3 separate regions of the Homo sapiens genome follow, and all the other regions are reported to be linked to region 1. Evidence: microRNA targets listed by miRTarBase, many of them from high-throughput screens and not tested one by one. Region 1 holds a microRNA gene; each other region holds the end of a gene's coding sequence.

Region 1 (4,338 bases):
CCACTGCACTCCAGCCTGGGTGACAGAGCAAGACTGTAAAAAAAAAAAAAAAGAAAAGAAAAAAAGACATACAGAAGGAAATCAGGGAAAATGGGAAAATGAAGGGAATTAACAAATTGCAATAATCTTTAAGAAGTAGAGTATGAACAATTTTCCTTTTCTAGGATGAAAGCTACCAACAACTGAACTCTTAGAGTGAGTGATGGCAGAAAAAAATAGCAATCAAGAATAGGGGCATGTTAGTTTTTAGACATGTTTACAAAACTCTGCCTTTTATTTCTTAAACCCATAGGTCAACCACCCATCATACCTACATTACCCCATATGACAAGTGGATTTGTTGTATGTTTCAAGTTTTTAATCTTGGTGGGAAGGGGGAGGGCAGAGAAGTATTTATTGGTAAAATATCATAATAAAGGTTGAGCCTGTCAATGATTGTACCTAACAATAATAAATATGTGTAGGAAGTAAGAACGGCAAAAATGAAGCCGGGTAGGATACTGTGGATATGGTGACAGACAAGTATCTATACGAAATCCTGAGATATTTGTCCTCCATTTCATAAATTAAAGTGCCCCCTCTTTTGCTTTACAGATAAGGAAACTGAGGTGCATTATAATAGCAACAGCAGCTGATGTGTAGTAGATCCATACCACAAGCCAGGTACGATGTCAAACATTTAAATGTATCATTTAATTTAATTTTCATAGATCTCCTACAAGACAAGTGCTATTATTTTCATTTTACATACGAGAAAACTAAAGCTGACAGAGATTAAATAACTTGTCCAAGGTTGCATAGTAACTAAGTGAAAGAGCCAAGATATGAACTCAGATCTGTCTGATTTCAAAACCCAGGCCCTTAAACACTAGGCCAGTGGTTTTTTAACCCTGATTGCACATTAGAAGCACCTGGCAAGCTTTTAAAACCTACTGATACTCAGACCCTACCCCAGAACAATTAAATCAGAATTTCTTGTACCTGGGCCCTGATGTGGGTGTTTGTTTCAAAGCCTTTCTGGGTGACTGTAACATATAGCTTGGGTAAAGAAGAATTGTTGGGTGTCTCCCATGGAGGTCAGTATATCTGTGCCAATATGTGAGGTAGTACAAGACTCAAGTGTCCTCAGTCTGTCTGCAGTGGTTTTTCCCTTGCCCCATCATGTTCACTTTGACATCTTTTTTTTATTATGATTTTTGGAGAAGTAATATACAAGTGACAATTTTTTTACAAAGCATTGTCACAGCAGAACATGGTCATAAGTCCATCAAAGAGAAACCTGTTCATATCTATGTACAGGCTATGATGAATGAATACAAAGAAGACTATGTTTATTACTCTCATCCCCAAAGGGAAGTATAAAGCTGGCCTTAAAAGCTGTTCATACCAAAGCTAATCACTAAAATTTGGAATGGCTTCCTCCTCTCCTTTCACAAATGCAATAGGGTAGCCACTGGATCTAAGGGGAAAAGATCCAATTACCACTCTTTACAATGCTTTTTCACTTAGGATCTCAAGACGACTGACAGTCATTCAAAACATAAAAGTAAAGTGAAAATATCTCTAGTAGAAGTGAAAAGAAAATGTCTGTAGTAGGAAGAAGGCCTAAATTTGTGTCTATACTCTGCCACTTTACTGCAATGACTTGAGGCCAAAAGTAAAGTGACAGAGTATAGACACAAATTTACTGCCATGACTTGAGCCTTGATTTCCTTTTCTATATGTACTTAAGCCATATCATCCTTAGGGCAGTGATCCAAAAAATGTGGTCCCCATCAGCATCATGTGGAAACATATCAGAAGTGAAATTATCAGTCCCTACCCTAGACTCTGAATCAGAAACTTGGTGAAGGGGCAGTAATCTGTGTCTTACCAAACATTGCAAATAATTCTGACCACCTCCAGCTGACTCTGATGTATCCACCTCCATGGGGTTGTTGTCTAAGAATAAAAGGAGATGGTCCATAAAATTGTTATTTTTTTTACTATCTACTGAAATCAGAAATTTCAAAATTCTCTCACAGAGATATTTTAGAGAAATAATGTTACAGCCTACATTAGTTAGATAATAACCTCATTTCTGAATTTCACTTTGAATGTGTAGACGAGGCACAAGTCAACCAGAGGTTATGCAATTAGCTTGGAGTCAAAGAGAAAGCAAGGAGTAGAGCTGAGAAGGAAACCCCAGTGTGAACTTGATTTTTATTCAATCAAACTGTTAAGGTACCAACCACGCACTTTCATCTATAATCACAATGAACCTTTTAATAAACATGTTTCTATCCTCTTAGCTTAAAAAATATAACAGTAGCTTTTTGGATTTTAAAACAGATTGACTTCTATACTTCTGGGCTAAAGGCAGCTCAAGAGTCAATAAGAATCACAAGCTTTCCACAGTGAGAAGAAAGTGCAATTGCCCAGTCCTCTCTATCTATGAAGTGCAGACAGTATTCCTCTTCCTCACCTCACACTTTCGATTATTGCAATGGTGGAAACCATGATAAATAAAAGCGCTTATCTAGTGGTTTGGTTTTCACTAAAATTACAGACTTCTGTAACATTATTTGGATACCATAAAACACAAACCAAATTTTAGGAGATGCTTTAGGGTGTTTTTTCCCCTGCCCTCCTGTCGGAAGCCCTCTATCTTTTTACTGTAATTTATCTGATATAGCTACCAAGATGCTTGATACTTTTACATGCAAGGGTGCTGAAAAACAAAGAGCGAGGGAATGGGTTGTTAATGAAATTCTCTGATTGTAAAAAGCACTCTGGAATGATCAGGTGGTAAATAATAATAAGAGGAAATAACATAAAGTGCTTAGGTGCTACAGCGATAGTCACCATATAAATGCAGAAGAGATCAGACATGAATAGAATTTGCATTTTATGCAGCTGCTGTGTGTGTATATAGAATATACAGTAGCTAATTTTTCAATAATGCTGGTAAAATATTGTTCAAAATCTATTCTTGCTGTCTTCTCACTTTAAAAGGCATTATATAGAAAAACACCCATCTGTCCTAGTGCAATGGTGAATGTGTGCAAAGAGCCTAGAAAAAGAGCCTCTTTGCATACGTGAAAAAAAAGAACTCAAATAAAAGGAGATAATGAAGAAGAGACAATAGTAACACTATTAGAACAGCTATGCAGACAAGCACAAAGGTGATCTTTGAAAAACATCAGGGATAAATAACTCTGTTAATGTGTGGCAGAGAAACTACAGTTAAGACATACAGTAATATACCAAAAATATAGACATGCTTTTATTTTGTCTACTGGGCTATTGTGATAGTGATGGTTGTTTTTGAATAGAAAGGAAGAAGAGAGTGGGAAGTAGGATTTCGTTGTTTGTTGTTACTGTTGCTGCTCAGTTTAGAACAACAACATCAACTACACACCAGACCCGTCCAACAGTTCCACAAACAATGCTTACCATGAATCTGCCCTCAATTTTCTTGTTGTTATTTTCCCTTAATACTTATTGATAACCCAATGCCCATTCATTAGATATGCTAAATCCTCGTCCATGGTTACTCTCCTTTGGAAGAGACTGAGAAGATGCTAAGAGGGAGTTCCTCTTACACATAAGGGAAGAGTCTGTTTAGGAATCTGAGAAAGCAGAGGCCAGGATAAAGAGACCACTAGTCAATCAATACTAAGCACCGAAGACTGAATCACCCAAAGATACAATTATCTCCCTTCCTTTGTTCTGTCTCTTAGTCAAATAAAGGATTGTTTGTAGAACCTTTTCTGTTCCTGATCTCTAAAAAGCAGGACTGGACTTGCACATCCAACTATAATTCAAAATATCTCACACTTCCAACTTGAAAGAAGACATAAACTGTTTCAAAGAAACTCAGAGAGAGCAAATGCATATTCACAAAACTTACACTTATTCCTAGAATAGGAAAATGGAGAGAGAACTAACCACATAAGAAAGGGCTAATCATAATAATAATAGTAATAATGATGATATCAATCAATACTTTGGATTCTAGAGAATGATTTATCACAAAAATTCACCTGTATTAAGGGAGACTCCAGGACAAGGAGGTCATTAAGCTACATTTCCATCTTCAGGATTCAGCCAAACTCAGACTCTCCGGAAAGCTGTAAATGCTCTCAGAACAGACTTTAGTAATGAGATTGGAATGAACACTGGGCCTATGGCGTAAAAGCATCTCCCTGCCCCTTGTTCTAAAAGTTAACTATTAAACCATGTGCGGTTCATCCTGATTTGGTTTACTCAATTCTAGAAACAAGGACATGCTGATCAGATTGCCCTGGGCAATTGAATACCTACTGAAGCCTTTGGGAAGACAGTGTTCTTCCCACC
Region 2 (4,000 bases), not on the chromosome of region 1:
GCCCTGCCATTTCTTTGCTAATGACGGCTACTGTCTATAGAGTGTTCATGGGGTGCCCACTCCCTATATTCTTAAATCCTCATGGCCCTCTAAGACGGCAGGCTGTTCCCCGGCTCGGAGGGGGTAAGCCTGGCACAGCCCTGAGCTCTCCCTCTGTCTCTGCCCGTCGACCCTGCAGGTTCACGTACGGCCACGCGGGCACCATCTACAAAGACTTCGTGTACATCTCGGGGGGCCACGACTACCAAATTGGCCCCTACCGCAAGAACCTGCTATGCTACGACCACCGGACAGACGTGTGGGAGGAGCGGCGGCCCATGACCACGGCGCGCGGCTGGCACAGCATGTGCAGCCTGGGTGACAGCATCTACTCCATCGGGGGCAGCGATGACAACATCGAGTCCATGGAGCGCTTCGACGTGCTGGGCGTGGAGGCCTACAGCCCGCAGTGCAACCAGTGGACCCGCGTGGCGCCGCTGCTGCACGCCAACAGCGAGTCGGGCGTGGCAGTGTGGGAGGGCCGCATCTACATCCTGGGCGGCTACAGCTGGGAGAACACTGCCTTCTCCAAGACCGTGCAGGTGTACGACCGCGAGGCCGACAAGTGGAGCAGGGGCGTCGACCTGCCCAAGGCCATCGCTGGCGGGTCCGCCTGTGTCTGCGCCCTGGAGCCACGGCCAGAGGACAAGAAGAAGAAAGGCAAAGGCAAGAGGCACCAGGACCGGGGCCAGTGACCCTAGCTGCGCCTCTTGGGACCATCCTCACCGTCACCTCCCAGGGCTCTGTAGACCAGCAGCAACTTCTTAGTATTCCGGAAACATTATGTACAACTTAGCAGCTTTTTTTACTTTTATGATTCTTGGTATTTCTATGATATCACAGTAACCAATTAAATACTATCTGTAACTTTACATATCTTGCTTGAATAACTAACCCTGGGCCCAGGCAGTGAGCAACCCCTTGTATCTTCACAGGTCTTTGCCCCGTGTTATGATTCCTCATGGGTCCTTGCTGACTGTCCCCCTGAGAGTAGCTGGCACGTGGGTAACACAGAAATTTCTGTAGTGAAGCTTGGGCCTCAAAGGGTTCTCTTAGGCCACCTAGTCCAAGCCTCCCCAAACCTGGCTGAACTTTTAAGAATACAGATGCGTGAGCCCCGCTCAGAATTATGGAATCCAAAACCACCAGGAACGGGGAGGAGGTGGTGCCCAGAAGCTGTATTTTAACTAGTTCTTGGAATTCTGGGTATTAGTCACATCTGGGAATCACTGGCAAGGTCCAGTGTGTTTGTTTTATAAATGAGTGCACAGAGACCACCCATGAGGGTGAGTGAGTGAGTGACCAGGGGCCACGCAGCTCGCTAGACTGTCAGATGAGACATGATGACTTCCCGCTGGGGAGCTGTTCTCCGTATCAGGTGAACGCTGTTTCTGAATAATTCCGTCTTTCCTCATTGGAAACCTTCTTGAATTCTAAAACGTTACAGGTAACCAAAAACGAAAAAAGGTATGAAGCTCTTTATACATATTTTTTTGTAATTTGTGCATTTTTTTCCTTTTTTTTTTTTCTGAACCCACTGTCTTTTATATTACTGATGTACTGAGCTCCCAAATCTGTTTATTTCTCAGGAAAGAAAAAGTGAGTGCTATGGAATTTGCCATCGTTCTCTGTGACTCTATCTTGAGGCGCTGTTGAAAGTTCCTGCACAGAGGAGCACATGTGGATCCCTGAGAAGGCAGTGGAGGGCTCCCTAACTCCCACGCCAGGTCCTGCCCCAGTTTTCTGCTTCTAAGTAGTTTCGTGCTGCTGGGCAAATTCTCGAACAAGTCCGTGTGTTCCCTCATCCACCCCGCTTAGCCACAGGATTAGATGGAATACCCTCCAGGCTCCTCCCGGGTGATAGGGCCATTCAGCCTCTGAGCTGTTCGTACCCGGATGGCATCCCCTTCAGGATGTGGAGCTGGCCTGCACTGACTCCTGCAAACAGTTCCTAAAGCAGGTGTCAGGGTCGCTTGCCCTTTAAGAGGGCTCTTAGCTGCCCGAGTGGATGAGAAACGTGCAGAACTATGGGAGGATAGGAGTGTGATGGGTTTTAAGCATGAGCCAAGGAAGGCATGAATGAGCTGTACCTCACCCAGCATCCGATGGCAGAGATCAGTAAACTTCAAGATGTGCTTCATCTTCAATCCTAGTCTAACACCAGTCTTCCTGCAGACAGTTCCGAGAGCAGGTCTCGATGTCACTTGCCCTTTAAGAGGGCTCTCAGCTGCTCGAGTGGATGAGGATCAATGTGTTAAGATTGATATTAGACTAGGAAAAAAATCTTAGTTAACTTTAATTTCCATTTCTTCTGCTTCTTTGCTGCCCCTCCTTTCCCTTCCCTTCAGGGTTTACTGTGGTTCTCACTGGTCTGTTTATGTAGCCATCCAGAAGAGATGAGAGCATTTTGGGGACTGAAAGCTTCAATAGCCAACTTACTGCCCTCTGTGGTTAGTGAGGAGGGCAGTCTGCATGTTCAGCTAGCTAGTTATTTGCATGTGAAGTCCCTGGAGGCTTACAAACTGTTGAGAGGTTCTGCGAGGCATACAAACAAACAGACCAAAAGGCTGGAAACTCTGCTTGGAGCTCTGCAGCATTCCGGTGTATGAAAGGTTCCGAGAAGTCTCAACCCAGCATTTCCAAACTTCTTTGAGCCTAAAAGTCGTTTGTCTCATACCTAGTCCCAGACCCCCACAAAACATGTTTTGCAGAACTTCTGCCAACTTTGGGATAGCTTACCCCCTTCCTATTCGGGAAAGGTTTTATTGCTTGTAGACCCCTCAGAAGGCAGGGTAGGGTGTACGTGGGCTGTTCTCCCCATCTCAGCCTGGGTCATGAACAAACGGGCAGTTGTTTGGCCTGAATCTCGGGGCAAGTTGGGGAGAGCACATAGAAAGACTCTGTGAGTGATTTGGGGAGTGGGATAGCTTTGACCTTGGAGAGAGGAGAGCCATTGGTTTTCAGCCTAAGCCAGCTCTTTTATGTTTTGCTTCTGGGACTTGTCCCTGGAAATGTGTGAGCTTCTGGCCTCTATTCTGATTTTCTTGTGCCTCATGAGTTACATACGACGTCCTGCGCTTCATATTTTGTGGTGTCTCTCCTGATACTATGAAGGTGGTTTGTAATTGACATGGCTTTGACCCTAATATTACTAAGGTTGGGACCACCCTTTTAAAGGGAGGATAAACAAGTTTCATCTTGTGGGTCAACTTCTAATATTTGATGGTGGCTACACTGTGACAAGAAAGGTTTTTGAGCTTGTTGGGGTCAGTGGATGGGCACAAGGGCACCCAGTGGTGGTGCCCGGGCCAGGTTTTTGTTACTTGTCTTTTTAAGTTGAAAATTCACCCTACTGTGCATGAAAATGGAACTGAAAATGGAAGAGACCATGCCTGGGCAACATGGCAAAACCCCATCTCTACAAAAAAATTACAAAAGATTAGCCAGGGATGGTGGGGCATGCAGTAGTCCCAGCTGCTTAGGAGGCTGAGGTGGGAGAATCACCTGAGCCTGGGAGGTTGAGGCTGCAGTGAGCTATGACCACACCACTGCACTCTAACCTGGGTGACGGAGTGAGACCCTGTCTCAAAAGAATAAAATGTTTTTTAACTCAGATGGGCAGAGTTTGGGCTGTGCTTATGCAGTGGCCATTTGAACCGCACAGTCACGAATGTGGGGTTTTAAACTAGAGTGATGAAGGCACAGGTGCTTGCAGGCTGCCATTTTGAGAGGGAAACAGCCACACATGTCATCATGTTAAACTTTCAGTGTTTCAAGCTATTCTGCTTGAATTTTGAAGACACCTGGATCTTTTTTTTTTTTTAACATTTCAAAATAAGCATGGCAGGCTTCTATTGAGGTTTGGACTTCTCTCATTTCTAAAGAATTAGAGTTGTAACTTCATATTAGTTGTAAGTTTGGGGTTTGGTCCTCACCCAAGTTGGAAAGCTGTTTGCTTAAG
Region 3 (4,326 bases), not on the chromosome of region 1:
GATCATCTAATGGAAATGTGAGTTATAGTTTTTGTTTATTCTGTTTTTTCAGTTTTAACCATGCTGACCAACGAAACTGGCTTTGAAATCAGTTCTTCTGATGCTACAGTGAAGATTCTCATTACAACAGTGCCACCCAATCTTCGAAAACTGGATCCAGAACTCCATTGTTAGTTCTTTTTTTTCCATTGCTGGAAAATTTAGGGGATATTCAAAACATGGTATTGTTGCTGTTTAGTTTACTTAGCTTGTTGCTATTCCACATGCAGCTTCCTGGGAATTGAAGAACTTAGGTTTATTCTGAACTTTGCTCTCTCCCTCTGTAATTTGGAAATAGTTTATCAGCTTGCTAGTGGAATTTTCAGATGGGGTGACCAAGAAAGCATTTGGAGGACTTAAAAAGGACTGAGAAAATATTTATGGAGGGGGATAGGCTTTTGAAGAAAACAGATCTTGCATGTTTCTAGTGATTTTTAGACAAGTGATTTGCTGATATGAGAAACACAGGGTGGCTTAAAGAATTGCAGAGTTGGTCGGGTGCGGTGGCTCACGCCTGTAATCCCAGCACTTTGGGAGGCTGAGGCAGGCAGATCACCTGAGGTCAGGAGTTGGAGACCATCCTGGCCAACATGATGAAACCCCGTCTCTACTAAAATAAAAAATTAGTGGGGCATGATGGCGGTTACCTGTAATCCCAGCTACTCAGGAGGCTGAGGCAGGAGAATTGCTCGAACCCGGGAGGCGGAGGTTGCAGTGAGCTGAGATCACGCCACTGTACGCAATCCAGCCTGGACAACAGAGCGAGACTCCGTCTATCCTGCCCTCCTTCCAAGTTTTTAAGACTGTAGCAGTGGTAATGAGTAGCTTGTTTAATGAAAATGTTTCATCCTGGCATATCATGCTTGTCTTTTTAGTGGATATCAAAGTATTGCAGAGTGCCTTAGCAGCCATCCGACATGCCCGCTGGTTCGAGGAAAATGCTTCTCAGTCCACGTGAGTCCCTCTCTAACCATTTGGATTAAGATAAACTTTTTAACTGCAGTGAATAGCAGGATACCCCCATACTTCCTCTGACAGAACTATTTTGCCTGTGACCTCGTGTCTGGATTTTTATTTTTACCTTAAGGAAGCAAATTAAGATTTAGAGAAAGCAGAGAATGTATAGTTCTGGAAATAGCATAGTCAGCTTCAATTCTACCTTAGGCATGGAAATACATGATCGTATTGATTTTAATGTTTGGGTCACTATTACTTTCAGAGTTAAAGTTCTCATCAGACTACTGAAGGACTTGAGGATTCGTTTTCCTGGCTTTGAGCCCCTCACACCCTGGATCCTTGACCTACTAGTAAGTAAAGATGGGCAATTGGAGTTCCTCATCATCCTTATTTACTAGTAGTAGTAGTAGTAGTAGTAGTAGTAGTAGTAGTAGTAACTCTGAAATTCACCAGAGTCTGAAATTTGGTGAAGCTTAAAAGAAATTTTATTGGTAGACAAGTAATCCAATAAAAATTCAACATTTACATGACTCAGAGACATTTGTTTAAAAAAAAAGAAAAAATTCAAAGTTTTTTTTTTTTTTTGTATATTCAATGAAATGAGTAGTTACTGAGTTATAGTGTCCCGTTTTCTTCTCATGACTGCTACCATTTAATCATGGTAGTAGAGAGAAATGAGTGAGCAGCCATTTCAGAATTGCTTCTGAACATGAAAATTTTGGCTAGACTTAGACCTTAATGACCAGTTTTCCTCGTGATCATTTAAGGTTTTAGTTTGATGCCTGTAATCCCAGCACTTTGGGAGGCTGAGGCCAGAGGATCACTTGAAGCCAGGAGTTTGAGACCAGCCTGGGCAAAATAGCGAGACTCTGTCTCTACAAGAGAAAAAAAAAAAAATTAGCCAGTTGTAGTGGCTTGAACTTATAGTCCTAGCTTCTCAGGAGGCTGAGTCAGGAGGGTTGCTTGAGCCCAGGAGTTCGCGGTTACAGTGAACTATGATTGCGCCACTGCACTCCAGCCTGGATGACAAAGTGAGGCCCTGTCTCTAAAAAATAAAGTTCTAGTTATCAGAAGTGCCATTTTGATGGCACACCTACTGGATTTATTATTTTTCAGGGCCATTATGCTGTGATGAACAACCCCACCAGACAGCCTTTGGCCCTAAACGTTGCATACAGGTACAGCATGCTTTGGGTTTAGGGTTGGTTGTAAACTATTTTGTGCATTCCTTTAATACCTCATACCTCCCTGTGTTCTAGGCGCTGCTTGCAGATTCTGGCTGCAGGACTGTTCCTGCCAGGTTCAGTGGGTATCACTGACCCCTGTGAGAGTGGCAACTTTAGAGTACACACAGTCATGACCCTAGAACAGCAGGTATTGGGACAGATATGAACTGAGTTGTTTTGCCCCACTCTTTTGAATACTGCTGCTCAGCAGGCAAAGCGGAATATGGTCTTTACGGGTCAGGAATTTGGGGATTCTGAAAGACTTTGGTCCTGAGATTTAAAAAGCTGTCTTAATCTCTGTTTTCAGAAGGGTATTACTCAAATAAGGTCCTTTGATTTTCCTTGCTTACTCTCACTTTGCTTTCCTTCAGGACATGGTCTGCTATACAGCTCAGACTCTCGTCCGAATCCTCTCACATGGTGGCTTTAGGAAGATCCTTGGCCAGGAGGGTGATGCCAGCTGTGAGTGACCACTGTGGGTCAGGGGTTTTGTATTGTAATCTGGTACAGAGAAGCTGTACACTACTTAAATGTCTTTAATATTTCCACAGTGTAAGTAATGACTTTTATGCTGGGCTACTCGTCTAAATCACCTTTTTCTCTTTCCTAGATCTTGCTTCTGAAATATCTACCTGGGATGGAGTGATAGTAACACCTTCAGAAAAGGCTTATGAGAAGCCACCAGAGAAGAAGGAAGGAGAGGAAGAAGAGGAGAATACAGAAGAACCACCTCAAGGAGAGGAAGAAGAAAGCATGGAAACTCAGGAGTGACATTCCCTTCACTCCTTTTCCTACCCAAGGGGGAAGACTGGAGCCTAAGCTGCCTGCTACTGGGCTTTACATGGTGACAGACATTTCCGTGGGATAGGGAAGATAGCAGGAAGAAAAGTAAACTCCATAGAAGTGTCATTCCACTGGGTTTTGATATTGGCTTAGCTGCCAGTCTCCCATTTGTGACCTATGCCATCCATCTATAATGGAGGATACCAACATTTCTTCCTAATATTCTATAATCTCCAACTCCTGAAAACCCCTCTCTCAACTAATACTTTGCTGTTGAAATGTTGTGAAATGTTAAGTGTCTGGAAATTTTTTTTTCTAAGAAAAACTATTAAAGTACTTCCTAGTAGGGCTCTTGGTCTTTCTGGTTGGTGTTTTTTGTTTGTTTGTTTTTTTGCATGTGGCAACCTTTTTTGCTTTTGGCTTTGTGTACTCTTTTGTTGAAAATGATAATTGAGTCATTTAATTATAAATACTCAGATCACAATTTGAAGCTGTCTTTGAATTAAAGGACAAACTCCTGGAACCTTTCCATATACCAGAGTAAACTAGAATATCATTTTAAGTATTTATTGAATAAAATGATTCTATCAACACTGCTACTGTATTCAAGCCAGTGCAATAAAAAAGTGGGTGGACAGAGGTCATTCACTTTGACTTTGCCTGCCCCCTCCAAATCCCCAGTGTAAACAGGAAAATGAGAAGTCACAGGTAGAGGACATGCTGTCCAGGCCCATGTAACCAGGCATGTAACATACAAAGGAAGCCCCTCTGGTTAACTAGTCCTGAAGAAGGTAAGCCTCACGTATGCAGCTTAAAAAAAAAAGTAGAGGCCTCAGCTCATTTGTGAAAGGAAGCAAGAGCCATAATTAATGTAAGTCCTTTGGGAACCTCATTCTGGCTGTGTGTAGGTTTCCTGGGGCCCCTACATAAATGGGTAAGACGAAGTGCTTCAAACAAACTGTACGGCTCCCTTTTTAATGTCTGAAGGTCTATGGGGACTGTCTCCTAGGATCTTTGCATGTCTGTTGAAACAAGGCAGCTGGGGAACAGTACTTGTGCTACTGAGTCCATAGGCTCATCTGTTATTTGCCTGGGGAGCCAGGGGGGTAAATTCCCGAATCCAGCATTGCTCTCCTGCGGGCTGTTTCCTTGGCAACACTGTGGTTTAGCCGTCTCAGTCGTTCCTACAAGACAAGGAAGGTTTGGAATCTTAACCACTGTGAAAGGCTTGAGAGTGTAAGTGAACTAGGTGCTGAAAAATACCGGGCGTGATCTACCTCAAAGTCAGTCTTCAAAAGTATATATAAGAATGTAGGCCGGG

What was found. The annotated mature microRNA hsa-miR-4796-3p reads UAAAGUGGCAGAGUAUAGACAC and lies in region 1 at 1,614-1,635, opposite strand. An mRNA with a match to its seed (bases 2 to 7 or 8) in the 3' UTR can be bound and repressed. Matches are read on the target gene's strand: a 7mer-m8 pairs with bases 2 to 8, a 7mer-A1 pairs with bases 2 to 7 and ends in A, and an 8mer does both.
Region 2: miRTarBase lists KLHL36 as a target of hsa-miR-4796-3p. The part of its 3' UTR that is shown has no 7-base or 8-base seed match.
Region 3: the mRNA of SNAPIN is a reported target of hsa-miR-4796-3p. Seed matches in the 3' UTR shown: 7mer-m8 at 3,629-3,635.

The regions. Positions count from the first base shown.
Region 1 is chr3:114,741,839-114,746,176 of GRCh38, forward strand. MIR4796 (microRNA 4796) reads right to left here and starts at 1,687; the gene lies at 1,607-1,687. All of the region lies in intron 5 of ZBTB20 (zinc finger and BTB domain containing 20), which reads right to left.
Region 2 is chr16:84,661,400-84,665,399 of GRCh38, forward strand. It overlaps KLHL36 (kelch like family member 36), which reads left to right. Exons shown (of 5, transcript NM_024731.4): 5 at 179-4,000. The coding sequence ends at 734. Among named protein-coding and RNA genes, the nearest start is that of KLHL36, 15 kb to the left of the region's middle. RefSeq lists an enhancer at 2,206-2,425 and a silencer at 2,516-2,565.
Region 3 is chr1:153,661,063-153,665,388 of GRCh38, reverse strand. SNAPIN (SNAP associated protein) reads right to left here. Exons shown (of 4, transcript NM_012437.6): 4 at 3,537-4,189. The coding sequence ends at 4,088. It overlaps ILF2 (interleukin enhancer binding factor 2), which reads left to right. Exons shown (of 14, transcript NM_004515.4): 8 at 53-169; 9 at 915-993; 10 at 1,259-1,346; 11 at 2,113-2,174; 12 at 2,256-2,370; 13 at 2,594-2,684; 14 at 2,833-3,601. The coding sequence ends at 2,993. Among named protein-coding and RNA genes, the nearest start is that of SNAPIN, 4.5 kb to the right of the region's middle.